Linked DNA regions of Homo sapiens. The protein of the gene in region 5 purifies or fractionates together with the protein of the main gene of each other region. This does not show direct contact. Each region holds a gene or a part of one and is shown on either strand. Other genes may lie near its edges.

Evidence for each region.
Region 1: the proteins of TCERG1 (region 5) and HNRNPM purify together in Homo sapiens (affinity purification with mass spectrometry; 2 studies listed by BioGRID, with this or other methods). This does not show direct contact.
Region 2: the proteins of TCERG1 (region 5) and POLD3 purify together in Homo sapiens (tandem affinity purification; one large-scale study listed by IntAct). This does not show direct contact.
Region 3: the proteins of TCERG1 (region 5) and TCERG1L fractionate together in Homo sapiens (co-fractionation; one large-scale study listed by BioGRID). This does not show direct contact.
Region 4: the proteins of TCERG1 (region 5) and TPM4 purify together in Homo sapiens (affinity purification with mass spectrometry, with the first as the bait; one study listed by BioGRID). This does not show direct contact.
Region 6: the proteins of TCERG1 (region 5) and CHAF1A purify together in Homo sapiens (affinity purification with mass spectrometry, with the first as the bait; one study listed by BioGRID). This does not show direct contact.
Region 7: the proteins of TCERG1 (region 5) and CHD8 purify together in Homo sapiens (affinity purification with mass spectrometry, with the first as the bait; one study listed by BioGRID). This does not show direct contact.

The regions. Positions count from the first base shown.
Region 1 is NC_000019.10:8,451,248-8,455,492, reverse strand, and holds part of HNRNPM (heterogeneous nuclear ribonucleoprotein M), read right to left. Parts: intron 89-4,245; coding exon 1-88. UniProt on the Homo sapiens protein: Pre-mRNA binding protein in vivo, binds avidly to poly(G) and poly(U) RNA homopolymers in vitro. Involved in splicing.
Region 2 is NC_000011.10:74,598,473-74,602,717, reverse strand, and holds part of POLD3 (DNA polymerase delta subunit 3), read right to left. Parts: intron 1-4,245. UniProt on the Homo sapiens protein: Accessory component of both the DNA polymerase delta complex and the DNA polymerase zeta complex.
Region 3 is NC_000010.11:131,094,889-131,099,048, reverse strand, and holds part of TCERG1L (transcription elongation regulator 1-like protein), read left to right. Parts: intron 1-624; coding exon 625-743; intron 744-3,271; exon of another isoform or gene 3,272-3,661; intron 3,662-3,749; exon of another isoform or gene 3,750-3,831; intron 3,832-4,160.
Region 4 is NC_000019.10:16,074,794-16,079,508, reverse strand, and holds the start of TPM4 (tropomyosin alpha-4 chain), read right to left. Parts: upstream 3,015-4,715; 5' UTR 2,944-3,014; coding exon 2,812-2,943; intron 2,494-2,811; exon of another isoform or gene 2,379-2,493; intron 1-2,378. UniProt on the Homo sapiens protein: Binds to actin filaments in muscle and non-muscle cells. Plays a central role, in association with the troponin complex, in the calcium dependent regulation of vertebrate striated muscle contraction.
Region 5 is NC_000005.10:146,478,055-146,482,299, reverse strand, and holds part of TCERG1 (transcription elongation regulator 1), read right to left. Parts: intron 3,808-4,245; coding exon 3,647-3,807; intron 2,446-3,646; coding exon 2,389-2,445; intron 2,273-2,388; coding exon 2,206-2,272; exon of another isoform or gene 1,151-2,205; coding exon 1,100-1,150; exon of another isoform or gene 854-1,099; coding exon of another isoform or gene 730-853; exon of another isoform or gene 1-729. UniProt on the Homo sapiens protein: Transcription factor that binds RNA polymerase II and inhibits the elongation of transcripts from target promoters. Regulates transcription elongation in a TATA box-dependent manner.
Region 6 is NC_000019.10:4,422,745-4,426,989, reverse strand, and holds part of CHAF1A (chromatin assembly factor 1 subunit A), read right to left. Parts: coding exon 4,195-4,245; intron 3,656-4,194; coding exon 3,595-3,655; intron 3,185-3,594; coding exon 3,116-3,184; intron 1-3,115. UniProt on the Homo sapiens protein: Acts as a component of the histone chaperone complex chromatin assembly factor 1 (CAF-1), which assembles histone octamers onto DNA during replication and repair.
Region 7 is NC_000014.9:21,396,379-21,400,623, forward strand, and holds part of CHD8 (chromodomain-helicase-DNA-binding protein 8), read right to left. Parts: intron 4,235-4,245; coding exon 4,035-4,234; intron 3,930-4,034; coding exon 3,773-3,929; intron 3,693-3,772; coding exon 3,603-3,692; intron 3,328-3,602; coding exon 3,224-3,327; intron 1,575-3,223; coding exon 1,445-1,574; intron 1,024-1,444; exon of another isoform or gene 915-1,023; intron 1-914. UniProt on the Homo sapiens protein: ATP-dependent chromatin-remodeling factor, it slides nucleosomes along DNA; nucleosome sliding requires ATP. Acts as a transcription repressor by remodeling chromatin structure and recruiting histone H1 to target genes.

The DNA.
Region 1 (4,245 bases), on a different chromosome or scaffold from region 5:
TGGATTGGCATATGGCTCAAAGCGATTGCCTCCTCTTTTTATGTTTTTCTCCTTCCTCTTCTCATTCTGAGCAGGTCGTTCTCCTTCACTGAATTCGAGAGAGAGGAAAAAAAGGTAAAGGGTTTATATGTCAGCACAATGTGAAAGATAATTATTTGATTTGCCAGGTTTACAATTCCACACAAAGTTACATATGACACAAGACTAGTATTGGTCAGATGCGGTGGCTCACACCTGTAATCCTAGCACTTTGGGAAGCCAAGAAGGGGGGATCATTTGAGGCCAGGAGTTCAAGACTAGCCTGGGCAACATAGCAAGACCCTGTCAAAACAACAAAAAAATATATATAAAACTTAGCCAGGTGTGGTGGTGCACTTGCAGTACTAGCTAGTAGGGAGGGTGAGATGGGAGGATCACTTAAACTCGGGAGTTCGAGGCTCCAGCAAACTATGATCACCCTACTGCACTCCAGCCTAGGGTGACAGAGCGAGACCCTGTCTCAAAAAAAGCAAAGACAAGACTAATGTTGGTTTTGAATTAAGACATTCAAACTCAAGGCTCCACAGGGCAGAAAGCATTCCCAAGGAAAGGTACACCTTCCTGGGCTCACAAAATACTCCTACGGACAGTAACAGAGACAATGGTGAGGCCAACTCCCTGACCAAGGTGTGTTAATTCCAAGACAGAAACAGGAGAAGAGAGGGATGATTTCTAAGACTTCATAGAATGGAAATATGAGGTAGTACACATAGGCCCATCCAATTTTAGCTTCACAAATAAGTGTCTTTCATAGTGTTAAAAAAAAAAAGGGGGGGGGGGCATAAAATGATGCAGCCGCCATGGAAAAGTTAGGTAGTCACTCAAAATTAAACACAGAATTACTATGACCCAGCAATTCCACTGCTAGGTATACACCCAAAAGAATTAAAAGCAGGGACTCATACACATATGCCAATGTTCATAGCAGCACTACTCACACAAGCCAAAAGGTAGAAACAACCAAGTGTCTACCAATAGATGAATGGAATAAACAAAACACGGACTATCCATGCAATGGGATATTATTCAGCCACAAAAAGGAAGGAAATCCTGACAAAGGCTACAACATGCATGAACCTTGAGGGCATTATGCTCAGTGAAATAAGCCAGTCACTGAAGGCCAAATATTGTATGATTCCACTTATTAAATACCTATAATAAGCAAATCCATACACAGAAAGTAGAACAGAGGTTACCTGGGCCTAGGGGGAGGTAGAAATGGGAAGTTATTAAATACTGAGCATAGAATTTCATGTGGGATGAGAATAAAAGTTCCAGGAATGTGCAGATTGCTGCAAAACATCATACTTCACTGCACACTTAAGATGGTTAAAATGGTCTATTTTATGTATATTTTAACCACTTTTTAAAAATCCAGAAAGGTGGAAAAGAAACCACTCCCTACACAATCCTACTACTTTGAAGCTGGGAAACTTGGGTCTGAGCAACCCTGGGAGGTGGAAGACAGCATGCAGACAATCCCACCTTTGGCAAAGAAGGGTGGCTGCTTTTCTGGCACGGCCTTCCCATTGCACTCTTTACCTTTGTGTGCTAGGTGCCACCACACTGTTAACACTAACCATCTCTAGGTAGCAGCCATCAGGCTTGGAAGCCCGGGCACTGGCTGACAGGGCGCTTTCCTCAGCTGCCAGCTCAAGCGCAACCCCTCTGACTACAGGGAGGCACAGATTAGAGCTGATCAGGAACAAGTGAGGAGCCAGAAGCCACCTCAAGTTTCTTAAGCAACTGAGCCTTGCACCTTCTGCTTCCCCAGCCCTGTGTGTCCCGCCAGTGAGAATCCAGTGACTCCCAGACCACGGGCTCTACTACAGAATTTGTAATCCATGACAAAACCGGAAAAAAAACCAAAAAGCCAAGACTACAGTATTAATGATTTATAAAAGTATCTTTAACTGAAGAGCCGATCTTTATTCTGGGATGTAACTTTCTTCCGTGGAAGAAACACCAGATAGTAGCTGGAGAAGCTACTATTTTAAAATGTTATTTAGTTGAGGCCAGGTGTGGTAACTCCCATCTGTAATCCCAGCACTTTGGGAGGCTCAGGCAGGTGTATCACTTGAGGTCAGGAGTTCAAGACCAGCCTGGCCAACATGCTGAAACTCCATCTCTACTAAAAATACAAAAATTAGCTGGGCGTGGTGGCACATGCCTGCAATCCCACCTCTCAGGAGGCTGAGGCAGGAGAATCGCTTGAACCCGGGGGGCGGAGGTTGCAGTGAGCTGAGACCGCACCACTGCACTCCAGCCTGAGTGACATAATGAGACTCTGTCTCCAAACAAACAAACAAAAGTATTCACTTGAGACCAGGTATGGTGGCTCACACCTATAATCCCAGCACTTTGGGAGGTCAAGGCAGGAGAATCTTACTTAAACCCAAGAGTTCGACAAATAAGACCCTGTCTTTATTTTTAAAAATAATAATAATTATCTGAGTGTGGTGTTGTGCACCTGTAGTCCCAGCTACTCAGGAGGCTGAGCTGAGAGGATGGCTCCAGTCCAGGAGGTCAAGATTGCAGTGAACTATGATTGCACCACTGCACTCCAGCCTGGTTGACAAAGCAAGACCCTGTCTCAAAAATAGTAACGTATTTACTTGGAAAAATTTTAAAGTCAGCAACTTTGTGTAGTCCCCAAACACAAGAGTGCCAAGTGGTATCCCAGCAGAGGTATCACTGGTGTGAGCCACACCCAAATCAACACAAGGTAAAACCAAGGAAAGCAGCTTCCTCTGTGATCTCTCAACTATACCAATACACAATCAACAGGCTTCCCTTCCCACGGGCTGGCAGATAAGGTGATGTTATGGCAGCTCCAATCCCTAGATGCCTAGAACGCAATCTACCTGAGTCCACAAGACTGGCTTCACACCACAAAGCAGGTCCCACAGGAGACCTACAACTGTTACCCAGGCCACTTGTCTACTCCAAAAGAAAGTCCTTCACCAAAGTCTGCCAAACAAAATCTATCTGCCAAATCATCTCCTACTCTTTCCTGGAAAATGACGACGACTGTGTTAGAAAAAATCATAAAACATAACAGAATCTACACATCATGGTCCACCAGAGGATTCACAGATGGAAATGAATTTTAATATTGTTACTTTTGAAGTCCCAAATACTTTAAGATTTACAATAAAAAACATTCTGACAGAGTCCATGATGAATTATTTCCAGTCTTTCACCAGACTGCTTAAGCTCACCTATAAACTACGAAATGTATAAATAAATAATTACAGCCAAAGCAGGTAACAAAGTGTCTAACCTATATTCCACAGGTGCATACCATGGCTACGAATAAACTATCCAATCTAACCACAGAAGCTGAGCATTTGGTTTGGGGTTAATCCACATCACATGACTCACCATTGAGAAAGCGGCTCTCACCATGCTTAATGGGCACAGCACCTCTGCAAACAAATCCTTCCCTGGCTAATCATTCCCTCTGAGAGGTTTCCTCAGTAAAGAGATTAGAACTATCTCTTGTCATTTCCAACTTTTAAAAAATTGACCTTTTTGGAAATCTACCACCACCAACTAATTCTTGACAGACTTGTAGAGAATGACCCTCAAAGAAATATCATTCGAGACACATATTCAAGCAGACTGGCCATGGTGGCTCATGCCTGCAGTCCCAGCAGTTTGGGAGGCTGAGGTGAGCTGAGTGCTTGAATCCAGGAGTCTTGAGACCAGCCTGGGTAACATGGCAAAACCGTGTCCCTACAAAAAAAATACAAAAAATTAGCCAGGTATGTTGGTGCACAACTGCGGTCCCAGCTATGCAGAAAGAAGACAGTCTGGCTCCAGGAGGTCAAGGGTACAGTAAGCCATGATTGCACCACTACACTCCAGCCGGGGGTAACAGCGGGAGACCCTGTCTCGGCAAGGGAAGGGGAAGGGGAAGGGGAGGGACATATTCAAGTTTAGATGATGTGATAGTATAAAAGTGATGTCCTGAAAAGCTCTTTTTTTAACATGTCCAATCCTATTTTCTCACTATCTTCAGGACAAAATTAGGGGAAGATTCTTCTCTAGTCCATGTATATGTATACGTACATATAAAAACTTAACTCTGCAAGTCTTTTTAACTTTTGGCTGGGCGCGGTGGCTCACACCTGTAATCCCAACACCTTGGGGGGCCGAGGCGGGCAGATCACCTGAGGTCAGGAGTTCAAGACCAGCCTGGCC
Region 2 (4,245 bases), on a different chromosome or scaffold from region 5:
AGAAAGTTGAGAGCAGAGGTAATGTGATCTCACCTTTCAGAAGGATCTGAGAAGGTTATGTGGATGATATACTGTAGAGGGGCAAGGGAGGAAGCAAGACCAGTTAGGCTATTGCAATAACCCAGCCTAGAGATGACTGGTAGCTCAGTTTGGGGCAGTAGCAGTGCAGGTAGTAATTAGTGGATGAATTCTGGGTATATTTTAAAGTGAGAAACAACAGGATTTGCTGATATACTGTGTTGAAGTGTAAGAGAAAGAAGAGTCAAAAATGACTGGACTAGGCAACCCAAAGAAGGAAGCTGTAATTCACTGAGATGGGGGAAAAGCAGGAAAAGCAGGTGTTGAGGGGAGAAGTCAGGAGTTAGGTTTGGGGGCATATTAAATTTGCAATGCCTATTAGTCACTGTTGATGTTGAAAAGGTTGCTAGAGAGTCTTGTCTGAAACATAATTCCTTGTTATAAAGCTTTCAGTAGCGCCAGGTGTGGTGGCTCACGCCTGTAATCCCAGCTCTCAGGGAGGCAGAAGCAGGAGGATAGCTTGAGCACAGGAGTTCAAGACCTGACTGGGCAATATAGCGAGACCCCATGTTCCACAAAAAGGGAGGAGAAAAAAAAAAGTGTAACAAAGCTTTCAGTAGCTTCTCATCCCCTAAGGATCAACTTCAAATCTCTAGCAATGACAGGTAAGACCCTTCTTGTTCTGGGCTCTGTATCTCTGACCATTCCCCATCATACCTACACTATCTTCATCCTTAATGAAACATTCTACAATTCTCTTTATTCCTTTGTATATGCCCTTCCTTCTGCCTAGAAGGCTCTTCTCAGGCCTCAACTACCTAATTTCTCATCAAGACAGCAGCTCAGTTGTCACCTCCTCTATGAAGTATGAACCCTTCCCCAACACCATCAGGTCACCAGGGCACATCTTTTTTTTAAGAGATAGAGTCTCACTCTGTCGCCCAGGCTGAAGTGCAGTGGCGCAGCTCTCTATAACCTTGAATTCCTGGGCTCAAGCCATCCTCCTTCCTCAGCCTCCTAAGTAAACAGGACCACAGGTGCATGCTACCATGCCTGGTTATTATTTTTTCTTCCTGGTAGAAACAGGCTTTTGTTATATCTCCCAGCCTGACCTCGAACCCCTGCGCTCAAGTGATCCTCCTGCCTTGGCCTCTCAAAATGCTAGGATTACAGGAGTGAGCCATCATGCCTAGACAATGAGCTTCTGCCATCCAAGCTCTAACAAATTTTATCCCATATCTATTATTACAGCACATATCACCCTGCCTTCTAACTATTTATTTTACATATGACGCATCCCCTCTAGACTGTTAACACCTTGAGTACAAAAAGGTGCCCTAGTCAGGATTTTTGCTGATTCCTCCTCTTTGCCCTCTAATGTTTCTTTCCATTACAACAATTGTGTTAGAAGGATAAATGAGCTAACAGATCCACAAACATTTTGGTTTATTGATGCTAGTTTGGACCATGCTAAAGGAAGACATGATAGGCAGGTACCATGCCCAAAATGCTTGCAAGCTTGCTGGCCAAATGCACTATCTTTTATCCACAACTAATAGTCCTGCCCATATCATCAGTCATTGTCCTCTATGCACTTGTCTCCCCAAATTGACCCCAGTTCTTCTCTCTTATATTAACAGAAAATGCAAAGCAAACTCTTATTTTAAAAAACAATTCTTGTGGCTGGGTGCGGTGGCTCACACCTGTAATCCCAGCACTTTGGGAGGCCAAGGCAGGCAGATCACCTGAGGTTGAGAGTTTGAGACCAGCCTAACCAACATAGAGAAACCTCGTCTCTATTAAAAATACAAAATTAGCCGGGCACATGGTGGCGCATGCCCGTAATCCCAGTTACTCGGGAGGCTGAAGCAGGAGAATCGCTTGAACCTGGGAGACAGAGGTTGCAGTGAGCTGGGATCGTGCCATCACACTCCAGCCTGGACAACAAGAGCAAAATCCTATCTCAAAAAAAAAAAAAAAAAAAAAAAAGGAAAGAATTCCTGCCTACTTTTTGAGTCTTTAAAACATGTTTTATCTAATTTAAGCCAAACTTTTCTGTTTTTTTGGAGATAGAGTATCGCTCTGTCGCCAGGCTGGAGTGCAGTGGCGCGATCTCAGCTCACTGCCATGTCTGCCTCCTAGGTTCAAGTGATTTTCCTGCCTCAGCCTCCCAAGTAGCTGGGACTACAGGCACACGCTGGCTAATTTTTTGTATTTTAGTATTTTTGTATTTCAGTAGCGCCAGGTGTGGTGGCTCACGCCTGTAATCCCAGCTCTCAGGGAGGCAGAAGCAGGAGGATAGCTTGAGCCTGGTCTCAAACTCCTGAGCTCAGGCAATCTGCCCTCCTCGGCCTCCCAAAGTGCTAGGATTACAGGCATTAGTCACCGCGCCCAGCCTAAGCCAAATATTTTTTAATAAACAAAATATAAAATATTCTTAAATAAGAATGACAACAGGCTGGGCACAGTGGCTCATGCCTGTAATCCCAGCATGTTAGGAGGCCGAGGCAGGCGGATCACGAGGTCAGGAGTTCAAGACCAGCTGGCCAGCATGGTGAAACCCCATCTCTACTAAACATACAAGAAGTTAGCCAGGCGTGGTGGCATGTGCCTGTAGTCCCAGCTACTCGGGAGGCTGAGGCAGGAGAATTGCTTGAATTCTAAAGGCGGAGGTTGCAGTGAGCCGAGATTGCACCATTGTACTCCAGCCTGGGCAACAGAGCTGTCTCAAAAAAAAAAAAAATAATAATAATAACAACATATATGACTTCTTACAAGATACACTTCCTACACATGATTAATTATAGCTTCCCATTTTAATTCATTAATCTTCCCTCCTGATCAGTTCCACCCATAATGTTCCCCAGGATGAGTACAGTGTATTGCCCATACCGCTTTCTCTAACCCAACTTAATTATTTCACAGCATTTTCACAGTCTGAAATTATCTTGTTTAAATCAACCAGGGGAGGGACCCTGTCTGTCAGGTTTACTGTTGTATGACATAGCCTGAAATAATGCTAAAAAAAAACAGTATGAGGCCAGGCACGGTGGCTCAAGCCTGTACTCCCAGCACTTTGGGAGGCCGAGGTGGGCAGATTGCGAGGTCAGGGGTTCAAGACCAGCCTGGCCAAGATCGTGAAACCCTGTCTCTACTAAAAATACAAAAATTAGCCAGGCGTGGTGGCAGGTGCTGTAATCCCCACTATTCAGGAGGCTGAAGCAGGAGAATCGTTTGAACCTGGAAGGTGGAGGTTGCAGTGAGCTGAGTTCCGCCACTGCACTCCGGCCTAGGCAACAGAGCGAGACTCCGTCAAAAAAAAAAAAAAAAATTACTTGAGAGAAATGTTTGTGAAAATACTATAGTGAGGCCGAGCATGGTGGCTCATGCCTATAATCTCAGCACTTTGGGAGGCTGAGGCAGGAGGACTGCTTGAGTCCAGACGTTCAAGACCAGCCTGGTCAACACAGCAAGATCCCAACTCTACGAAATAAAAAAATCAGCTAGCATGGTGGCATGTACCTGTGGTCCCAGCTACTCTCAGGAGACTGAGGTGGGAGTATCCCTTAAGCCTAGGAGGTCATGGCTAAAGGAAGCCATGTTTGAACTACTGCACTCCAGCCTGGGTGATACAGTGAGACTCTATCTCAAAACAAACATAAACCATAGTGCTTGGTATTCATTCAGTATGTATTGGCATTCATTATGTGCCTGACACTGAAGACAGAATAATTGTGGCATGTTATATTTTCCAAAGATGGCTGAGACAGCATCTTCCATTCCATATGCTCTTCTACATTCTCTCATTGAGAAGTAGAGCCCACTTCTTGAATCTGGTATGACCAGTTATTCACTGCTTGACTTCTGAGGCTAGTCAGAAAAGGCAATTGGCTCTACATTGTGCTGGAACACAAGCTTTTGGAGCCCTGAGCTTCTATGTAAGAAGTCCGACTACCTGGAGACACCAGGCTGTGAGAAAGCCCAGGCCATACAGATAGACCACATGCAAGCACTCTAGTCCACTGCCCCAGCTAAAGGCCCAACAGATGGCCAGAATCAACAGCCAGACATGTGCATAAAGATGCCTAGAGATGACCAGGTTCCAGTTATTGAGACTTTCCAGCGGGGATGCCAGACATCATGGAACAGACATAAGCCATTCCCACTGTGCCCTATCCAAATTCCAAAGCAAAAGAATCTATGCGCATAATAAAATGATGTTTCCAG
Region 3 (4,160 bases), on a different chromosome or scaffold from region 5:
TCCTGTGACCCCCTCAGAAGAGACCACTTATGCACCCTGAGTCCTCCCCAAGGCACCAGACGCCCAGGTTCACAAGTGGGGATCAGAGATGCAGAATTTACTTTCTTTCCACAAGTTAAGGTCATTTTTGGGAGACTCGAATGTCAATTACGTCACCCTAGGAAGTGACTAGCACGAACTAAGTGCTCTGCTGTGTTCTGGTGCCACTGGCCGTGATGAGGCAGTGGGAGGCCGCGCGTTACAGATGCTGCTCAGAGGGCACAGTGAGGACCACTGCAGCCTACAGCACGGGTTCCAAACCGCCACTTGGTTCCAGACGCCTGCAGAGAGGGCAGCCAAGTCATTCTCCGGGTTTCTCCAGCAGGGCTGCTTCACGTTTGACCCAGAAATGGCGCCTGCATGTAGAGAAATGCCGGGCCGTGTGGGCACCCAGGTTTAATTATTCAGACTGCTTGGATCCTTGAGAGCTATGCTGAAAGGCTGTTGCTCATAACTCCAGCAGCTGTAAACAAGAACAGCTTTTGCCATAGATTCTTGCTGCTTTCTCATGTTGTGCTTGGAATACAAGATTTCATTTCTGATATGCAATTTCATGATGTTTTTCTTCTGTATCTGTGTTTTAAGATATTTGAACAGTTTGTCAAGACAAGAATAAAAGAAGAATACAAGGAAAAGAAAAGTAAATTGCTGCTAGCCAAAGAAGAATTCAAGAAACTTCTAGAGGAATCTAAAGTGTCTCCCAGGTATGGAGAGAGAAATATACCGGATGATTTCTGGGGCTGGGAACTTACCAATGACAAGAGGACTCTTCAGGTTTGTTTTTGTTAAATCGTGTAACCCAGCCTTCCACAGACACGAAAGTGTGAGCTTTGAAGACCTGCCAGTGAGACCAGCCTGGCTCCCCTCTATCATGCTGCCTGTCATGAGCCTCCAAATGTCCCTCTCATCAGTCCTGGGAAAGTGGGCTATTTGCTAACCAAATGCATCACAACCATTTTATTCCTACCCTGCATGCATTTCAAACGTCAGCAGCCCTGACTGACCCAAATAACCAATCAATACGTGAGCACTCATGAGATGAGGTCTAGTTTCTGATCTAATGATCAAGAAGCAAAAATGCAAAGCTGACTACAAACAACAGCACCATAACCCCTACCACACCCCTTGGTTCCAGATGTCTTAACAGTTGGTCCCAGAGTAAAATGAAGATTTGATACACCGGACAAGTGAACTGAGTTAACTAGGTTGCCAAAACTTACTAAAATAATAAATGAGGCATTATTTCCATGAAATAAGACACACTTACAAGAAAATAGATGTTAGAAATTGGAAGAATACATAAGCTTAACTCTTTCTTAAAAATTAGCTTTAATTGACTGATCTTTAAAAAGTAATGAACATGGGCCGGGCGCGGTGGCTCACGCCTATAATCCCAGCACTTTGGGAGACCAAGGCAGGTGGATCACGAGGTCAGGAGATCGAGACCATCCTGGCTAACACGGTGAAACCCTGTCTCTACTAAAAATACAAAAAATTAGCCGGGCGTGGTGGTGGGTGCCTGTAGTCCCAGCTGCTTGGGAGACTGAGGCAGGAGAATGGCGTAAACCTGGGAGGCGGAGCTTGCAGTGAGCCTTGATTGCACCACTGCACTCCAACCTGGGCGACAGAGTGAGTCTCCGTCTCAAAGAATAAAGAAATAAATAAAAAGTAATGAACATGTACTACTTTTAGAACTATAAAACTGTAAGTTTCGTAAGCATAAAAATGGTTAACAATGTATTTTTATTTTAGACTGGAAGATGCAGCATCAGTTTTTTGTTTGTTTCTTTTTTTTTTTTTTTTTTTTTTGAGACAGACCCTCGCTGTGTCACCCAGGCTGTGGTGCAATGGCACGATCTTGGTTCACTGTAACCTTTGCCTCCGGGGTTCAAGCAATTCTCCCTGCTTCAACCTCTCAAGTAGCTGGGATAACAGGCACCCACTACCATGCACAGCTAATTTTTGTATTTTTAGTAGAGATGGGGTTTCACCATGTTGACCGGGCTGGTCTTGAACTCCTGACCTCAGGTGATCCACCCACCTCGACCTCCCAAAGTACTTGGATTACAGGCGTGAGACACCATGCCCAGCCAGAATCAGTTTTTTCTTTCTTTTTTTTTTTTTTTGAGATGGAGTCGCTCTGTTGCCCAGGCTGGAGTGCAATGATGCAATCTCGGCTCACTGCAAGCTCCGCCTCCTGGGTACATGCCAAGTAGCTGGGACTACAGGTGCCCACCACCACACCCGGCTAATTTTTGTATTTTTAGTAGAGAAGTAGAGACGGGGTTTCACCATGTTAGCCAGGATGGTCTGGATCTCCTGATCTTGTGATCCACCCGCCTTGGCCTCCCAAAGTGCTGGGATTACAGGCATGAGCCACCGCGCCTGGCCTGCATCGGTTTTTAAATGGACATTAATTGATGCTTTCTATGAAGGCATAGGCCCCCTTTGTTTGACCTGTGATTTGGTTGATCAAGAATTAGGTGACCTAAGTTAGTGCTAGTTACACAATCCTCATAAAACTTCTCTAGCTATTCTAAGGACAGGTACTTTCTGAATAGGGAAAAAATAGCATGAATTATCTTCATCACAAGTGCTAATGTAGACAAGGAAATGTGTGTCCTGTTGCCTGCAACTTGTGATTTTCCATTGTTAAAGCAGTCATGAGAATGCTGGGTTCTAGCCATGGCTTAGCTGTGTCCACCCACCAGGTGGCCTTGGGACAGAGGCGGAGGAGGCAAGGGCTCTGGAAAGGTGCTGGAGCCCCTTCTCTGCCTTGGTTCACAGCCTGGCCCTGGCCCATCTTCTCCTGGCCATGGGGTAAGTATTGGACCTTCCTGTGCTCCCGAGCCCTCCTCCAAATGGGAGGATGACCACACACACCTCAGAAAGTGACGAGGAGGATGGCGTGAGGAGTTGCAGGGAGGGACCCCGACGGTGCCTGGCAGGCAGGAGGAGCTCCGAAAGTGGTAGCTGTCATTACTGCTATTGAGACCATCATTACTGTTAAAGACATCTGGCCAGCATTCTCTATTGATAAACTAGCAGCAATAAGCCACATACTCCCCTTCCCATGAATACATCATGAAGACAACGGAAAAAATATTCGGAATGCATTGAGCCATTTAAAAAAGATGACATACACACATACACGCACACAGAAGGAAAACGAGTGGTAGAAATTAGAAGGGAGTTAAACGGACTCTTTTTAAAATGAGAGTTAATTGCCTGCTATTTTTTAAAATAAATTTTATTGTATATATTTAAACTATACAACATAATGTTATAGGGCACATAGAGATAAGATGCTTACTATAATGTAGCAAATTATTTTAAAATTTACACTGGGATATATTGCTTTGATAATTATAAAGCTATTTTTTTCATTTTAAAAGTAGCTAAGTTTTCAACATTTCAAAAACTTTTTCCAGATCTTCTGTATACTTTTCTGTAGGCATCCTAGTGAAACATGTACAATTCAAATGACCACATGCTGGAGAGCCAGGCGCGTCCCCATGCAGGCGACGTGGGCCTCTTAGAAGCAGCCTCCTGAGGCTGTGTAGCCTCCTGCAGCCATACAGTCCCGTCCTGGTCGCCCGTCTCAGCCTCGGTCCTGAGCAGCCTGTGGGAATGGTGGCGACGGGACAGTCCAGAACACTCCTGGACAGCCCCTAGCCCCAGCCCTGCCCGCCTCTCGGGAGAGCAGCTACCGGGGACTGGGTCCTAGCCAGGTGGGGTTGGCCGCCCGGTGGGGTTGACGCCCGGTGGGGTTGGCCGTCCGGTGGGGTTGGCCGCCCGGTGGGGTTGACACCCGGTGGGGTTGGCCGCCCGGTGGGGTTAGCCGCCCAGTGTTCCTTCCTGAGAGCTGCAGCAGCCGCCTCCTTCATGGCAGGCTGGCCCGAGTCCCACTTAGCAGAGGGAGAGCAGAGATCCAGGGCCTGTGAATCAGCTGACCTTCGTGAGTTCACACCACAGCTCATCAGCATCAGCAGAAAGCCGGTTGCTGCCCCTTGGCATGGCTAAGGGGCCACGGAAGCGGGAGGCTCCCTTTCTTTTCAGGGACTCTTCTTTTCAGAGAGGCCCAGAATAGGGCCTGTCTAGCAGCTGCCCCTGTCCAGCCC
Region 4 (4,715 bases), on a different chromosome or scaffold from region 5:
TGTGAAAACCACTGATGAAACTGTCTTAAGAAACGTCACTGAGGCCTTCCCATGAATGGGTGCCTTTCATTCTTTTTAATTGCCTAGATCTTAACTCCTCCTACCACCTTCAGTAACTGGGCCAGGAACTGATGTTGCAAAAACACTCTGCAACCAACACCATTATCGAATTCCAGGACATTTTCATAACCCGCCAAAGACAAACAAACAAACAAAAAACTGTGTACCCATTAGCAGTCGAGGAATTGATTTTAAAGATCAAACAGAGGTGCTTGATTCATGAGTTGTCTTTTAAGAAGTGAGTAGCCCTTATGTGGGAAATTCTGAATCCTGGCAAACAACGCTTTTGGCAGATTTTCAGCTGTCTGGAGTTGGGAGATACACGCATATCTGTACATGCATACATATATATGTATTTTTGAAAAACTGCTAGTCACGGCCGAGTCATTTTGGGTTCCACCCCTTCCTGCAATCAAAGCCTTCCACACGCTACAAAGGATTTCCCTTATAAGGTAAAAGAGGCTTGCTAGATACATGTGGCAAAGGAACAGGAAGATGTCAGTTAATCACACAAAAATCTAAACGAAACCAGCTGTCGGGAAACAGGCCCAGAAGTCTACCACACGCCGGCTCCTGGCTTATTCTACAAGAGTGAAAGGTTTTTTTTTTTTTTTTTTTAACCCACCCCTGGTCTTAGTTCCTTTTGCCCTGGGAGAGGTTTTCCCTCTCCCAGACGGAAAGAAGCATCCTTTGCTTTTTCAAGAACTTTTCGAACTTTTTCAAGAAGTCTTCAACTCTCCAAAAACATCTTCTCTCCCAACTAGACGGTCTTGCTCCTAAATCTTGGCTCCAGGCTGAGGGCCATTTTGAAGCCGAGTTAATTGTCCTCCAGCGAGATGACTTGGGATGAGATCAGAGCAAGAGCTGTGTCGGTTAAGTGTGAGAAAGAGGCCAGACCGGCTACCGATTGAGGCTTACACCGGGTTTCTAAGGCCTCTTGGGCCAAAGCAGCCCTTACAGGATTAGAGGCTTCAACCAAGGCCCATGCTGCAGCCCCCATCTGGGCTCTTTCCAGTCCTGGCAATTCACACCACCAATTCCATCTGGCTGGGCATCTTTTGCCTCTCTAGGGTCCCCACCCTGAGCCTCAACACTGAACTTTCAGGGCTTTTGGGCTTCAACCTCTATCCGCACACCCCCCCACCCTCATCATACAACTTTCTTGCCTCTGAGTCTGTGCACACCCATGTCTCTGGTCCCAGCAAACTTATTTATTCTATAAGACCCAGCTCAACCTCCATTTTGGAGCCTCCCCTGTCATGCTCCCATAACTGCACAGAAAACCCGTGGAATGCAGACCTCGCTCCATCAGTGAGTCAGCTCCCCTGCCTCCATTTGTCTATGAGCTCTTCCCAGGGCAGAGAAAACACAATTGAGGCTGGGCGCCGTGGCTCACGCTTGTAATCCCAGAACTTTGGGAGGCCAAGGTGGGCAGATCACGAGGTCAGGAGTTCGAGACCAGCCTGGCCAGCATGGTGAGACACTGTCTCTACTAAAAATCCAAAATAAAAAAAAAAAAATTAGCTGGGCGTGGTGGCGGGCACCTGTAATCCCAGCTACTCGGGAGGCTGAAGCAGGAGAATCTCTTGAACTCGGGGGGTGGAGGTTGCAGCGAGCCGAGATCGCACCACTGCACTCCAGCCTGGGCGACAGAGTGAGACTGCCTCAAAAACAAAACAACAAAAAACAACAACACAATTGATTATTTACAAAGCGCCAGGCTCCACGCCTGAGATTTACTCCTGGGACCCTCCCTGCTACTCTGGGGGGTCGGGATTCTTATCAGTCCTACTCGCAGATGGGAAAAAAGCTCCTAGAGAGCAAATACCAAGTCATGAAGCCTGTGGGTGGCATGATATGGGACCAGAATCCAAATCTGTCCCCAGACCCTGGCGGTGCCACCATCTGTCCCGAGGGACAGCCAGGAGGATGATGCAGAGAGGATGGTGAAACTCCCTCCTTTTTCAGACCCATTGTTTATCTCGGGCCCTGCGACTCGCGGCGGAGGCGCACAGCAGGCGCTCAAACGATCGTGGGTTCAGGGCCCCGCGCCAGCGTTCCCGGGGCCTTCTGGAGAGAGGCAGGGTCCCGCCGCCCCGGTTCCCGCAGGAATCAGCTGGAGAAAGGCGGGCGGCTTGGGGCTGAACTTCCTCCACCCCCCATCCCCCCCGCCGCCTGGAGCAGACACGTCGCCGCCGCGCCCCTGGGAACGGTCAGGGAAGCAAGCAGAAGCCGGGAAGCCGCGAAAGAGGCGAGAAAGTGCGACCCCCTCCCCAGATCCCCGGTCCCCCGTCGAAATCCCTGTCGGCCGGTCAAACCCTAGACAATGGAAGCTCCACGTTTTCATCCTCATTCTCCCCCACAAGTCCGGTCGCGGGTTCCCCTCGGCCCGGGACCCCGGCGCCAGCCCCGGAGTCGGAGCCTGCACGATACGCCCCCTCCCGCCGCTCCACTTCTCCACCCGGAGATCGCTCACCCCCTCCGCCCCATCCCCCCATTTCCCGCTTGGCCGGCCCCGCCCGACCCGGAGGCGGCGCCCCCTCCCCTGTCCCAGGCCCAGGAAGGAGGACGGCGGAGGAAGTAGGGGGTCCTGGCTGCGGGCGCAGGGATGTGGGTCGGCGATCGGCGTCCGAGGGCGTAAAAAGGCGGCCCGAGGACTGCGCGCGGGCGGGCAGCGCGGGAAGCCGGGAAGAAAGGAGGGCGCGCGGGGGAGGAGGCTGCGGGTGCGGGGCCCGAGGCCGGGGCGCTCACTTTCTCGCGCCGCTCGCGCTCGCCGTCCAGCTCCCGCTGCAGGCCCTGCGCGCGGTCTTCCGCCTCGTCCGCCTGCTGCTGCAGGGCCTGGATCTTGCGTTTCACCGCCTCCAGGGAGTTGAGGCCGGCCATGGCGCGGAGGCGCAGAGGCGCACGGGCAGCGGCGGACGCTCGGCTGGGCTCGGCTCCGGCGAGAGCTGCACAGCCGCGCCCCGGCCCCCCAAGCCTTTGCCTGCGCGGGGGCCGCCCCCGCCTCTCCCCGCCCCCCGGGCCGGCTGCCGTCGGGGCGATGAGGTCACCCGGCCGGACCGCCGACGTCAGCACCGCTGGGGGAGGGCCTGACGTCGGCACCGCTGGCCACAGCTGCTGGAAAGTGCCCCTTTTCGGGACTTATTTGGAGAAAGCGCTGGGAGGCGCCGCCTTCTCCTCCTCCTCTTCCTCCTCCCCCTGCGGCTCTCCCCGCCTTCCCGGCCCCGGGGCTCCGGCCTGGCCCCGCCGCGGGCTCCCGCATCCCTGCACACGTACGTCGGAGGCCTTCTTCTCCGTGAGCTCCAGCTTCTCCTGCGCGTCCTTCAGGTCCTCGGAATATTTATCCAGCTCGTCCTCTGTCCCTTTTAGTTTCTTCTGGAGGTGCGTCAGCTCCTCCTCCACCTGGGGACGACAGAGCGAGGAACGGGTCAGCCTGGGGGGGGGGTCACGTCCCCGAGGTGCAGGGGCGGTCCCCCCCAATATTCACAAGAGTCCTCCGTCTCTCTCTGGGCATCAGTTTCCTTATCTGTAGAACAGGGGTTGCGATAGCATGCACCACGCCATCCATGCTACCTGATAGTGGGATTTTCACATCTTTCCCTCGTCCTGAGGACCAGCTGTTTTGGGCTTATTGGGGTCCCCAGTACTCTAGGGAGATCAATGGCAGCTTTTGGGAAACTGAAGACTCCAAATGTTTTCCAGAAATACACACATTCCAGTTTCAGAGGTGCAGCCTCACCATGATCTGGAGTTAAGCAATCTCATTCTCTGCGCGTGGATCCCTCCGCCCATCCCTGTCCCCAGCCTTTCTCCCTCTGGTTCTGACCCCAACACGGGGTCAGAGAAACTTTCTAACAAATACGCCTGCCCTCTTTCTGCCTAGAACCTGCTATGGCTCCCTATGGCCCAAGGCAGTGGTTCTTAGACTGTCTTACCAAAATACTCTGAAGGGCTGAAGGGCTCAGACCTAGTCCCTCATTTCTGGGCTTTGGGGAGCTTGGCTAGAAGAGACTCGCCCCTACAGGATCACTTTCTTTGAAGGCTCGGGTTAAATCTTTAAAATTTTTGCATATAGGCCATGTTCATTTTAATAAAAATGTCCCCTACTTTCCCTAAATTTTCAGTCCTCTGTTTATCCCAAGAGTCCTATCCTCCCATCACTCCTAGTTTGAGAAGCTCAGGCCTATGGATTACAAACCACAGACCCCATCACCTCTCTTTGTCACCCCCCACCACACCGGTCTAGAGTTGGCTCAAGAAGACTTTTCTGTCACCTCCAGGCTGAAACTCCCTCCCTGGGCCCCCAACTCTGGATTAGGGTGATCATATCCAGCTCATGCCTGGATCTGACTTTTTTTTTTGAGAGTCTCGCTCTGTCACCAAGGCTGGAGTGCAGTGGCACGATCTCAGCTCACTGCAACCTCCGCCTCCTGGGTTCAAGTGATTCTCCTGCCTCAACCTCCCCGGTAGCTGGTACTACAGGTGCACACCACCACGACTGACTAATTTTTGTATTTTCAGTAGAGACAGGGTTTTGCAATATTGGCCAGGCAGGTCTCAAACTCCTGACCTCAAGTGATCTGCCCGCCTCGGCCTCCCAAATTGCTGGGATTGCAGGCGTGAGTCGCCACACCTGGCTTGGATCTGACTTTTGC
Region 5 (4,245 bases):
TTACTTAAAAAAAAAAAAGTTTAACACTGCAGTAAACCTCTATGTGTCAGAATCAAACAGCACAAAATATAATTTTTTTAGTTCTTGAAATATAGAAAAAACAGTATTTTCCAAAATGTTTTACATTATAAACACATAAAATATTTTGTAAAATCTAATAAAAATTGGTATTAAGTGGTATAATGTTTTAGTAATCTCAAACATTCATTTTAAAAATAAAACTAAAATATCTGCAATCTTGGCCAAGTGAATATGTAAGATATATACCTTACCTACCTGACTTTTTATTACTCACTTTCTGGGTGATAAGTTGAGATTTAAGTTGAAGGACAGGTCCCAGAGAGCAACATGGGCCCAGGAGTAGTTAGGTGGAATTAGAACTGTTCATCAATGACTAAACTACTTCTTGTTCCTCCAAAAATGCACCTCAGGTGTAAGGGCAACCCTGTTTCTGTGTGGTACTCAAGTGAAATTGTAAACATGGAATCACGGCACCTCTCAAATATATGCACTATGAAAAAGGCCCATTCACGTAAATAATCCAAAAAAGTATGTAATTCAATAATATCTGGGTGTATTTTAGCAGATCTTCCTTCTTAAATATGATCTGCTAAGTATATTTTAAAAATTGGCTCTTATTCCCTATACAAACTTAAGGGAATTAGGAAAACAGAACATGTGGAAATTCAAAAGCATGCTATACAGGAAACTGTAGGTAGCCCCAGAGATTTAAATGGAACTAAGGCTAACCCACAAATGCAAGTGAGAGGTACTTAGCAACTTAGGCAATGAATCAAAAGAAATAGAAGACATAGTCCGTGACCTGCAGGAACTTAGCGAGATAGTCTGTGACCTAAGATATGCACAAAACAAACAGGTAAAAGCAATTTGCCAAACAATATACCCTCTTATAATAATAATTTTAAAACTATTTAAATAGTTAGAGTTAAAAGACATCCAAGAAGTAACTAATAAAAACAAATAACCTTTATAGAACTATACTAAATGAAAATGTCACAATACAAACTATCACTATCTATCTCAATAAAGGAAATAAAAGAAAAACTAAGCCAGGAAAAACAGGCTTTTAGCTTTGTACCTAAATAGAGAAGCTCGGGCAATCCACATAAAGGACTTCTTTGACATTCTCCTGATAAAAGCAGTTAAAAACCTTACAGAGTTGTCTATAAGAACAAACAATTAAAAACAACCTAAAAGTTTAACATCGTAGGAACATCCAAAATTATGGTACATAAACAGAATGAATACAGTCATTTATAATAATTAACAAAACAAATGTCTTATTCTAGGTTTTTTTTTTTTAAAAAAAAAGCACAAAATCAGTTAATCACAACTAATAAAAATTACATTTGGTCAAGAACTAAAAAGTCAATTGCAAAAATGAGAATAGCTATGTTACGCTGATAAATTATGAGTGATTCTTTCATATCTTTTATGTTGTTGCCAATAAAGAAATTTTTTTTAAAAGAACTACCCTTTATAGGGGTTGTCCTACTGATTTCTTTGCCATAATTTGGCTGCATTCAATCTGTCCTTTTCAGATAAGGACTACAATTAACCAGTTCCTGTTAATGTCTTCAAACTTTCCTTTTTGCTGCTAAATAATGGTCCCATTCCCCATACATGCATACCCTCTACCCCATCCTTCCCCCCGCCATAACATTTACATTTTACCCAACTCTAGAGCACTGGCCAAGCTAATGCCTCTACTTCTTAGCAGTCTCTTTCTCGCAGAGCACTTCCTAAGCTTATGGGTTCTCTCCTCACCAAGGAGTTAATGACCAGACTCAAGGACTAGGTAAGTCGTAAGATAACCATATAAAGAGGGAGAAGTCTGTGTCTGTTTTTATGAGATCTCTGGAATGGTATCCATTGGGGTCTAAATGAGGGAGGAAACTAACTTTTCATAAAATTGAGACCTAATAAATTTCCAAAAAGAATTAATTCCAAAACTATCATTTGGAGTCATAATACATATATGAATACCCAAATCTTCTACAAATCTAGCAAAAGAAGGGACACATTTTCTACAATGAAAAACAAAGCTATTTATTATCAGGCCTAAGAGAGCAATCATGCCTCCTAACAACATTCACATTACCTGTCCCTTCCAATCACAAATTATTACCAAATCGACTTTTAAAAGATATAATCTACCTCAATCAAATCGTATGTATTACTTACTTCCGTTTTTTTGCTTTAACAGGCTCATCTTCATTAATTTCTTCCATTAATTCTTGTTCCTCTTTAACTATAAGACAAAATTTAATTAAAATATTTAGGAATGAATCCTTCTGCTAATCACTACCAGAACACTTGCTTTAATAGTATTAAAAAGAAGCTGCAATTTATGGTTAGTTCACTCACTTGCACTCATAGAGAATTGCCACTTTTGGATCGACAGCATTGTCGGAGTTGGGTGCCCTGGCAAAAACATTTCAAATATTGTTACAAAGTCATTTGCATATATTTCACAAACTTTTCTTTTTAAAAATTACTGTTTACATAATATATTCACCTCTTAATATTCATCCCTTTATAAAACATTAAACAAAGCATAATTCTACACTTCCTCTATTTATCCTCCCTTTACATTAAATTTAATTCATTTTGAAATGTTTCTTGCCCAAACCTTAAATTTACAAATATATAAAATAAAGCTTTCTTGATTCAGGATTTACAGTACCTTTTAACAATGCACGTTAATGTATTTATCAAATGAATGAATCAAATATTTAAAAACAAATTCACGAAAAACAAAAGAAAATCACATATTGTTTCAACATCATTCAATACCATAGTTATAAAGTATTATTATCATACCTATAAAACAAGTATTGCTGAAGGTGAGCCTAGTACCTTCAGCACTAGATAGGCAAAGCGGCACTGACTCAGAAATTACTTATAATTCAGCATATATATAATGCATGAAAATGTCTCAATGACTATAAATGATACACACTAGGATTTATTTCATTAGAAGCATTAAATAATTCATTTATCTTGCTTCTATACCACTTGCGGGCCACAGTTCTATAAAAACACAATCATATCAACACAAGGGCAAATTACCAATAAGAAATACACAACAAAAATTACGTACAAATATCTGTACTCAATATATTAGTATGCCCTCTGAATATGAGATAGATTAAAAGATAATCTCTTAGTAAGGTTTAGGTGTCTAGTCTCAGGAATATAAGGAGCTTACCATCTAATTCAAAAGATTGAGATTTTGTATTTTTAAAAAATTTGTAATGTATTATTTCAAGAAATATATTACTAGTCACAAAAGGTGCTAAAAGGCCCACCGAGGAGCATTTTAGTAGTATTGATAAGCACTAAGCAAGCAGCAACACTACCAACCATATCTTGGACTAACTGAAAATCTTGAGTAGGACAATAAATTAAAGACACACATATTTTACAAAGCACAATCTTATCCAAATTCTCTCCATATTTTTAATCTCTATTATTTCATTCAAACTAGGATAGCAGTCTATTTTTTTCGAATGCTTCTTATATTCTTTGAAAAATAAAGGGTTTCTAAATGCCTTCCACATTTTCTATCAAAATATGAAAAGAATGTTAAAATCAGTGGATAAATTCCTAATTTAAAACTTACTTAGTTTCTTCAATTCCTCCATTCCTTTTTTATGAGGGGGCTCCTGAATAATTTTGTCAACATCTGCCCTGCCAATCAGATCATCAGGTCGGTCCCACATAGAAAGACGAGTGGTGGGATTATAAAAGAAGACCCGCTCATCACCAGTCCAAACGACACACCTAAGAATTGATGCAAAATATCATTCTCTTATGTTACAGAACATATTTTACAGCTAGGACTTCTTTCAGCCTGTTACAAGTAGGGAGATGAGGGTACTGAAGAACGACATGTTCTTATTACCAATAGTTATTTACAGAGAACCAAACATGGTTTTTACAAGATAACTGAATGACTCAAGCAAAAATAACAGATCAACATATTAACTGAGAAAACCAAGAAATGCAAAGCAATTTGTGATCAGAGATTAAAATGCTTAGGAATTTGGTTTGGCACACTCAATTTGAGAGTACTAAATTTTAAACTATCAGAAAGAATGAGTTTAATGGCAACAATAATGCTATTAAGCAGTTCTAAAGCTAAAGAACAGACATAGCATCCTAGCTACTATAGTTCTTAATATTTCTTAACAAACCAAAACTACATACTGAAATGCAACC
Region 6 (4,245 bases), on a different chromosome or scaffold from region 5:
CTCATGAGCAGCTGGGATTACAGACGCCTACCACCACGCCCGGCTAATTTTTGTATTTTTAGTATTTTTAGTAGAGACACCTTGTTGGCCAGGCTGGTCTCAAGCTCCTGACCTCAGATGATTCACCCGCCTTGGCCTCCCCAAATGCTGAGATTACAGGCATAAGCCACCGCACCTGGCCAAAAGGAGAAATTTCAGTATAATGAAAGACACTGTAGCTGGGCGTGGTGGCTCACACCTGTAATCCCAGCACTTTGGGAGGCCGAGGTAGGCGGATCACCTGAGGTCAGTAGTTCAAGACAAGCCTGACCAACATGGAAAAACCCCGTCTCTACTAAAAATACAAAATTAGCTGGGCGTGGCAGCACATGCCTGTAATCTCAGCTACTCGGGAGGCTGAGGCAAGAGAATCATTTGAACGCAGGAGGCAGAGGTTGTGGTGAGCTGAGATCATGCCACTGCACTCCAGCCTGGGCAATGAGCGAAACTTTGTCTCAAAACAAACAAACAAAAAACAACAAAGGCCGGGCACGGTGGCTCACACCTGTAATCCCAGCCCTTTGGGAGGCCGAGGCGGGCGGATCACAAGGTCAGGAGATCGAGACCATCCTGGCCAACACGGTGCAAACCCCGTCTCTACTAAAAATACAAAAAATTAGCGGGGCATGGTGGCGGGCGCTTGTAGTCCCAGCTACTCGGGAGGCTGAGGCAGGAGAATGGTGTGAACCCAGGAGGTGGAGCTTGCAGTGAGCCGAGATGGCACCACTGCACTCCAGCCTCAGCAACAGAGTGAAACTGTGTCTCAAAAAAAAAAAAAAAAAAGACTGTAAACAAAGAGGTAACAGGCTGAGACGAAATATCACGGAGAATGAAATACTAGACTATGTTAAAAAAAACTTACAGATCAGGCAAAGAAAAAAAAAGAAAATCCTGTAGAAAAATAGGTAAAAAAATAGGAATTGGCAAGTCATAGAAGAACTAAAATGGCAAACGAACAGAAAAAGATGCTCAACTGCACCAAGAGTCAAGTAAAAATGGAAAGTAAAACAATGTCAATTTTTAAAAATCCATCAGACTGGCAAAGTTAAAAGAAAATTAATCCCATAAAAATTGCAGTGATAGCAGAGAATGGGGAGGAAATTTCCACACATCGCCGGGAATGTACATCTGAGTTTCCCATCTGGCACGCACTCTGGCCATGGCTCATGATGCTTCAGCAATATGCTATTTTGTCCTAGAGGTGAACTCATGCTTACTTGGCTGTCCCAGAGGAATGCATGTGTGCAGAGAAGCATGTGCAGGGACCCCCCCTACACCACTGAGGGGCAAAGAGGTTGAGATAGTGGCAGGCTCTGTGGCTCATGCCTGTGATCCTAGCACGGTGGGTGGCCAAAGCGAGAGAAATGCTTGAGACCAGGAGGTCGAGACCAGCCCTGGCAACACAGTGAGACCCAGTCTCTACTAAAAATAAAATTAGGGAGGCTGAGATGGGCAGATCATCTGAGGTCAGGAGTTCAAGACCAGCCTGGCCAATATGGTGAAACCCCGTCTCTACTAAAAACACAAAAAATTAGCTGGGAGTGGTGGCAGGCACCTGTAATCCCAGCTACTCGGGAGGCTGAGGTAGAAGAATTGCTTGAACCCGGGAGACAAAGGTTAGAGTGAGCCGAGAGATAGCGCCACTGCTCTCCAGCATGGGTGACAGAGCAATACTCCGTCTCTAAATAAATAAATAATTTTTGTAAAAAAAGAGAGAAACCATATCATTGCATTATGAAGTATTATGCGGCAGTGAAAATACATGATGTGGATCTCTGGCTGTCACAATATGATGTGTAGGTACAACAATGTCACATTGTGCACCTTCAGGATACACAATTGCCATCAAATGTCTCAACATACAAATAAAAGGACAGGCCAGGTGCAGGGACTCACACCTGTAATCCAAGTGCTTTGAGAGGCCGAGGTTTGGAGGATCATTTGAAGCCAGGTCGTCGAGACCAGCCTGGGCAACATAGCAAAACCCAGTCTCTACAAAAAAAAATTAAAAAATTAGGCCGGGCACGGTGGCTCACGCCTATAATCCCGGCACTTCGGGAGGCTGAGGCGGGCGGATCACCTGAGGTCAGGAGTTCAAGACCAGCCTAGCCAACATGGTAAAACCCCGTCTATACTAAAAATACAAAAATTAGCCAGGTGTGGTAGCATGTGCCTGTAATCCCAGCTACCTGGGAGGCTGACACAGAAGAATCACTGGAACCCGGGAGGTGGACGTTGCAGTGAGCTGAGATCGCACCACTGTACTGCAGCCTGGGTGACAGAGTGAGACTCCATCTCAAAAAAAATAAAAATAAAAAATTAGCCAGGCATGGTGGCACATGCCTGTAGTCCCAGCTACTCGGGAAGGCTGAGGTGACAGGATCACCAGACCCTGAGAGGTCAAGGCTGTGGTGAGCTTTGATTGTGCAACTGCACTACAGCCTGGGTGACAGTGAGACCCTGCCTCAAAAAATAAATAAAGGCCAGATACATTAAAAAGAATGAAATACATCTAAATGTGGCAACATGGCACAAATCTGAGATAGCTAAGTACACATGTGTATAAATACAGTGAGTGGAGCAGGGAAAGGCACTGAAGGACCCCTAACATTGGAGATGGGCTCCCTCTGGGTAAAGGGGAAGGAGGGCTGTGGTTTCCATGCACAGATGGTGGCTCAGAAGGTCTGAGATGCCAGGTGACCGACGCCAGGCAGGGAAAGTAAACCTTTGTGAATTGTACTGTTGTTTTACAGCTAAACGTGCTCCCTCCTTAAGCCTAAGTTTCCCAAGGGTAAAAACATGGTGAATTTCTCTTACGCCTAACACAAAATTATTCATGAAGTAACCTCTGAAAACAGCACTGTTTAATCAGACATGCCACTTTTTACCTCTTTGGGACAAAGCGAAGGACAAAATATTGAGCCTCAAGACTTAACCAGAAATGGAAGTGCCCTAGGTCACTGGAGGCTCCCTCCCTCCTAATGAGAGAAGCTGGCTGGGGAGAGACCCTTTCACTTTCAGAAAGGAAAAGTCTAGCAGAGCTGAAACCCAAAAGCAAAGGCAGCCGGCTGCTCACCTTGGGGGCCTGTGGAGTCTTTGGTTTCTGGAAGAACCTCGTGATTTCGGCCTTCTCTGCTTTAATGCGCTGTGATGTTAAGAGATGGTGATGAGAAAGAGGAGAGGAAGAGGAACAGTATGTGTTGCAAAACATGCAAAGGCCCCCAGAACCGAACGTCAAGCATTTTAGCTTGAAGGCACTACTGTGATTTTCAGCTCTCAAAACCCACGGACCCGCAACTGAGCCAGCCAATCTCAAAATGTCCAAGTTGCCCTTGTGGGTAGAAGTGCCAGGATTGCAGGGCCAGTAGGCATGTGACAGCCAGCACTGGGAAGAAGCAACAAGAACGCATCTAGACAGACTCGCCCTCCCTGCGGGCGCCATTTGGTTTCCCCAAACCAAGAGAATATTAGGTGACGGCTGTGGCAAGAATTCCACTTTGGGCATCTGCTTCTCCAACGGGCTGGGACGGGGAAGCTCTGTGGGAAACACTCTACCTTCTCTTCTTCTCTTAACCGTTTCTCTTCTTCCTTTTTCCTTTTTTCCTCAAGTTTAGCCCTGTGAGACAGCAAATGACATTTCAGCCGACTCTTTGCTTTGGCTCTGGAAGGGACCGCAGCACTCAACTGTTAGTATATGGCAAGTATTTCATTTTACATTAAATGAATATAAGTTATTTTCATGTCTAGTATAAGGCTTTTACATAGGTCTTCACAATAAAAATGGAAAACAGTCAATAAAATTCTTCCTGTGACTAGAATATATATAAAAAACTTTAGCCAGTCAGAGCACAATTAGCACAGACAAAACCCACAATCCTGCAATGCAAATGCCTAAGTTGGTTGGGAACTGGAAGGATGGTCACAGCAGAGACAAGGGGTCCAGGGTGAGTTGGACGTGGGGGAGCACTAAAGAGCAGGGAGCTGCTTTCCACCGCTCCCACGTCAGGGCCCCACGGGCACCTCACGAAGGAGAAATGGGAAGGAACTGAAGGGAGCCGCCATCTGCCTGTGAAGTGGAAAGGCCCCATCAGAGTGGCCAGGAGCGGAATCCAGCAGCAGGGTGGCGGGCCCAGCATGGCCTCCAAGGACACTCACTCCAGGGCTTCCTGTCTCTCCTTGCGCCGCTCCTCCTTGAGCCGCTGCTTC
Region 7 (4,245 bases), on a different chromosome or scaffold from region 5:
TCACTGCAACCTGTGCCTCCCGGGTTCAAGCGATTCTCCTGCCTCAGCCTCCTGAGTAGCTGGGATCTACACATACCCACCACCATGCCAGGCTAATTTTTGTATTGTTAGTAGAGATGGGGTTTCACCATGTTGCTCAGGTTGGTCTCAAACTCTTGGGCTCAAGTGATCCCATCCTGGCCTAGTCTTTTATTTATTTATTTATTTATTTATTTTTTGAGATGGAGTCTTGTTCCATCACCTGGAGTGCAGCAGTGCCATCTCGGCTCACTGCAACCTCCGCCTCCTGGGTTCAAGTGTTTCTCCTGCCTCAGCCTCCCAAGTAGCTGGGATTACAGGCATGCGCCACCACTCCTGGCTAATTTTTTTTGTATTTTTAGTACAGACGGGGTTTCACCTTATTTGCCATGCTGGTCTCGAACTGATGACCTTGTGATCCACCCACTGTGGCCTCCCAAAGGGCTGGGATTACAGGCATGAGCCACAGTGCCTGGCCTAGTATTTAATTTCGTGTTTACAGGAATGGCAGGCCAGGTGCAAAACTTTGGGTCAGTCTGGTATAGCATCCAATGGAATACAAATAATTATAAGAAATTGACAATGTACCATTCGTAATTGCTTGAATTTGAAACACTTTGATCAACACAGTTCCTTTTTCTTGACTTTTATTATGTAATTCTTCCTCCTACCCAACTATTTACTTTTTATTATTTCATTTGTATGGTTCACGCTTTTTTGTTTTTATTACTGTGTTCTTCTGAGCAGACAGGTGGCATAAACGATTTGCAATGAATAAATAACCCAATTTCCTTTGAGGGTCCTACACTAGGCAAACTGAGGGTGTGATCGTCAAAGAGAAATTTCTCAGTCATGATGGAATGGGGAGGTATTCATTAAGCCAACTGTTTCACATGCCCCTCAGATCTTCATGTGAGAAGTTTTGTTAAACTCACTGGCACCCAAACCAGGGCAACACTGCCCTACCTGGTGGCTCAGTATTAGCATGGCAACTCATCATTGGGACATGTTTTCAGGCAAAATAAGTACCTTTATGTGTCAGGTACCATTGGGAGATGATAAACCAGGGCTGAAAGCGCCTAAGGCTCTTCCACAGAAGCAACGTATGAGAGCTGCTGGCTGTTATCTTTCAAGAGACCAGTTATCCTCTCAGCTACTGTAGCTGTACAGAAGAGTGTTGTAAACCAAACCAAATAGAACATCAAATAAGCCATTTACAAGTGACATTCATTTTCACCCTCAGATGTATCTTATGGCAACATGTGGTTTATGCAGTTTATGGAGTCCTTTCTGCTGGTCCTATTTTTGCTAAGGATCTATCACTTTTGAGTATAATTACAATTAAGAATCCCATTGGGTTCAGTCAAGGCTAGAGTTATTTCACGGCACAAGTTAGAGTTTTAAAAGAACAAATACTAATGCTTACCCTTCTACTATGTCAGAGAAGTTATCCAACACTCGATGTTCTGCTGCAATTGCTTTGTCATCTGGTCGGCCAGCCTTTTCTAGGAAACATAAGGCTGGGTCTGCCCTCATGGTATTATATTTCTCATAGCCTAGAAGAAAAAGGGTCATAGTTGAAGAAAATGAGATTTGTTTTGCCTTTATGCTTACTTTATATGCTGCTGGAATAATTAGAATATGTTCTATATTGCTCATAATGGAAAACAAAGTTAGAATGTTATCTTGGACAACTACTGGGTTTATTACTATATTTAACATTTTTATAGCAATTTAGAATCATGAAGAGTTTTTAACTAGTGACTGATAGCCTTAGGCTCCCAAAGTGTTGGGATTCCAGGTGTAAGCCACCATGCCTTGCCTGCAGTTTTATTTATTTTTATTTATTTATTTATTTTTTGAGATGGAGTCTCACTCTGTCGCCCAGGCTGGAGTGCAGTGGTGCGATCTTGGCTCACTGCAAGCTCTGCCTTCCAGGTTCACGCCATTCTCCTGCCTCAGCCTCCTGAGTAGCTGGGACTACAGGTGCCCACCACCACGCCCAGCTAATTTTTTATATTTTTTAGTAGAGCCGGCGTTTCACCGTGTTAGCCAGGATAGTCTCAATCTCCTGATCTGCACACCTTGGCCACCCAAAGTGCTGGGATTACAGGCATAAGCCACCATGCCCAGCACCTGCAATTTTATTTATCCCATTAAACGTCTCAAAAAAGATGTAGATTAAGTGCCATTACTTTTATTTTATAGAAAAAAAAGTATTCTTTTAAAAAAAAGACATTCTAATTCACAAAGTCACTTGGCTGAAAGTTAACGCTTACTGTTTTTAGTGCCTGGGATTTGGCATTAGGCAAAACTGCTATAAGAGTAAGGAAATATTCTTACCCCCACTGCATTTTTGTTTTGGCTAGTCAGTCTCCCTTCTTATACTCTACTTTTATTTCACTCAAAAACTGCTGCCTCATACCTATATCAGAGAGACTGCTGAACATTTAGACAAATGGGACATGTAGAAAAACAGAAGATTTTCAGCTCTTTCTCTTTAGTGAGGCAGCCAAGCTGACATAGAGATGCAGATCTCTGTAAAGACCCTCACAGGCAAAACCATCACCCTTGAGGTCCAGCCGAGTGACACCAGTGAAAATGTCAAAGCCAAGATCCACGACAAGGAGGGCATCCCACCTGACCAGCAGCATCTGATATTTGTGAACAAACAGTTGGAGGATGGCCGTACTCTTTCAGACTGTAACATCCAGAAAGAGTCCACCCTGCAGGTGGTGCTTTGCCTCTGAGGTGACATTATTGAGCCTTCCCTCTGCCTACTCACCCAGAAATACAACTGCGACAAGATGATCTGCTGCAATTGTTATGCTAGTGCACATCCAGAGGAAAGTCATATAAATTAAGTGTGATTATTATTAACAATAGTTGGGGTATATTACCTGCCCTGATTCATGGGACCCTAACTTACCATAGCATACAGTGCGGTAACACACTGCTAACAGTGATTAGAGAACAGATGGGAGGCTCCCTACCTTGAGATTTACCTATCCATCTGGCCCTTCTTGAACATCTATTTATAGGAACTAACTGCTCTGCTCTGGATATTTAAGAACTACTTTCCTACTCAAATTTATTGAAGATCAATCAGATAACTGAGTTATTTCTCAGGAGCATTTTGCTAAATGTTCCATCCGTGAACATAAATCTTCAGTCGGAAAGGAGTAGAATAGGAGAAGATACGTACCATGTTTAAAGACTCCAATGAGCAGCGACTTGTCAGCCTCACTGTCCCACCAAGTTGTTGGAACCTCCAGTTGATCCACTACTGGGAACCATATGTCAATCTCACTAAAGGTATAAGAGGGCAGAGTCAGCACAGAAATGCAGGAAATTAAAGTGAGAATCCTTGCAAAGGTTATTATAGGTATCTTCCTGTATCCATTAATTTAAATACTCATGCATCTACCCTATTTCCTCCCACTAGTGTCAAGTATAAGATTAAAGACCTGATATATAGATTTAAATTATCAGGTATCCCAAAGATAGCATAAAATGAAATAAGCAAACCAATCTTCCCTCAAATAAGGTAGGGCATAAATCAAAAAAATATAGCAGAATTTTACCTGGCAATCGCACCCCCTAACACCTTTTCTGCTTGGTCTCCAATAACCTCCTGCCTCAGGTAGTATAGCATTCGTACCCGCAACAGTACCCTAGAAAGGACAGAGGAAGAGCTGGCTCAGTAACACTGTAGAAGTTTGAGGTGGAAAATGTCTGCTAATTCTATGCTTACTTGTTACACTGATGTTTCAAGTGCTTCTTATAACTTTCATCTTGGAACAAAGTGTCAGGGTTATATTTCCGGATCCAATCTGCCTTATGGATATCAAAAGTGCTTTGTGACTTTACTTTTTTTCCTTTGCGTCCACGAGGCACAGGGATAGATAGACCTGGGAAAGGGGAGACATCAAAGACTTGGATTGAGAAAAACCCTTGGACCTGAAAAGGATTAGATTAACCTATAGAAAAACATAAAGTAAAGAGTTGATAATTACCTGAATGATTCTGCAATTCTTTTGTCTTGCCATTTTCAGCTGGGCTAATCAAGTCCCAGATGAAGCCTTTAATATTTTCATCCCCACGGTAGTGTAGAAGACAGTACACGAGAATGGCCCGACAAATGGTCTCCACATCTCGTTCAGTCATACGTCGCTTGAAGCGTCCATGAGATAAAATATCTCGCCATCGTCCCCAACTAAAAAACAG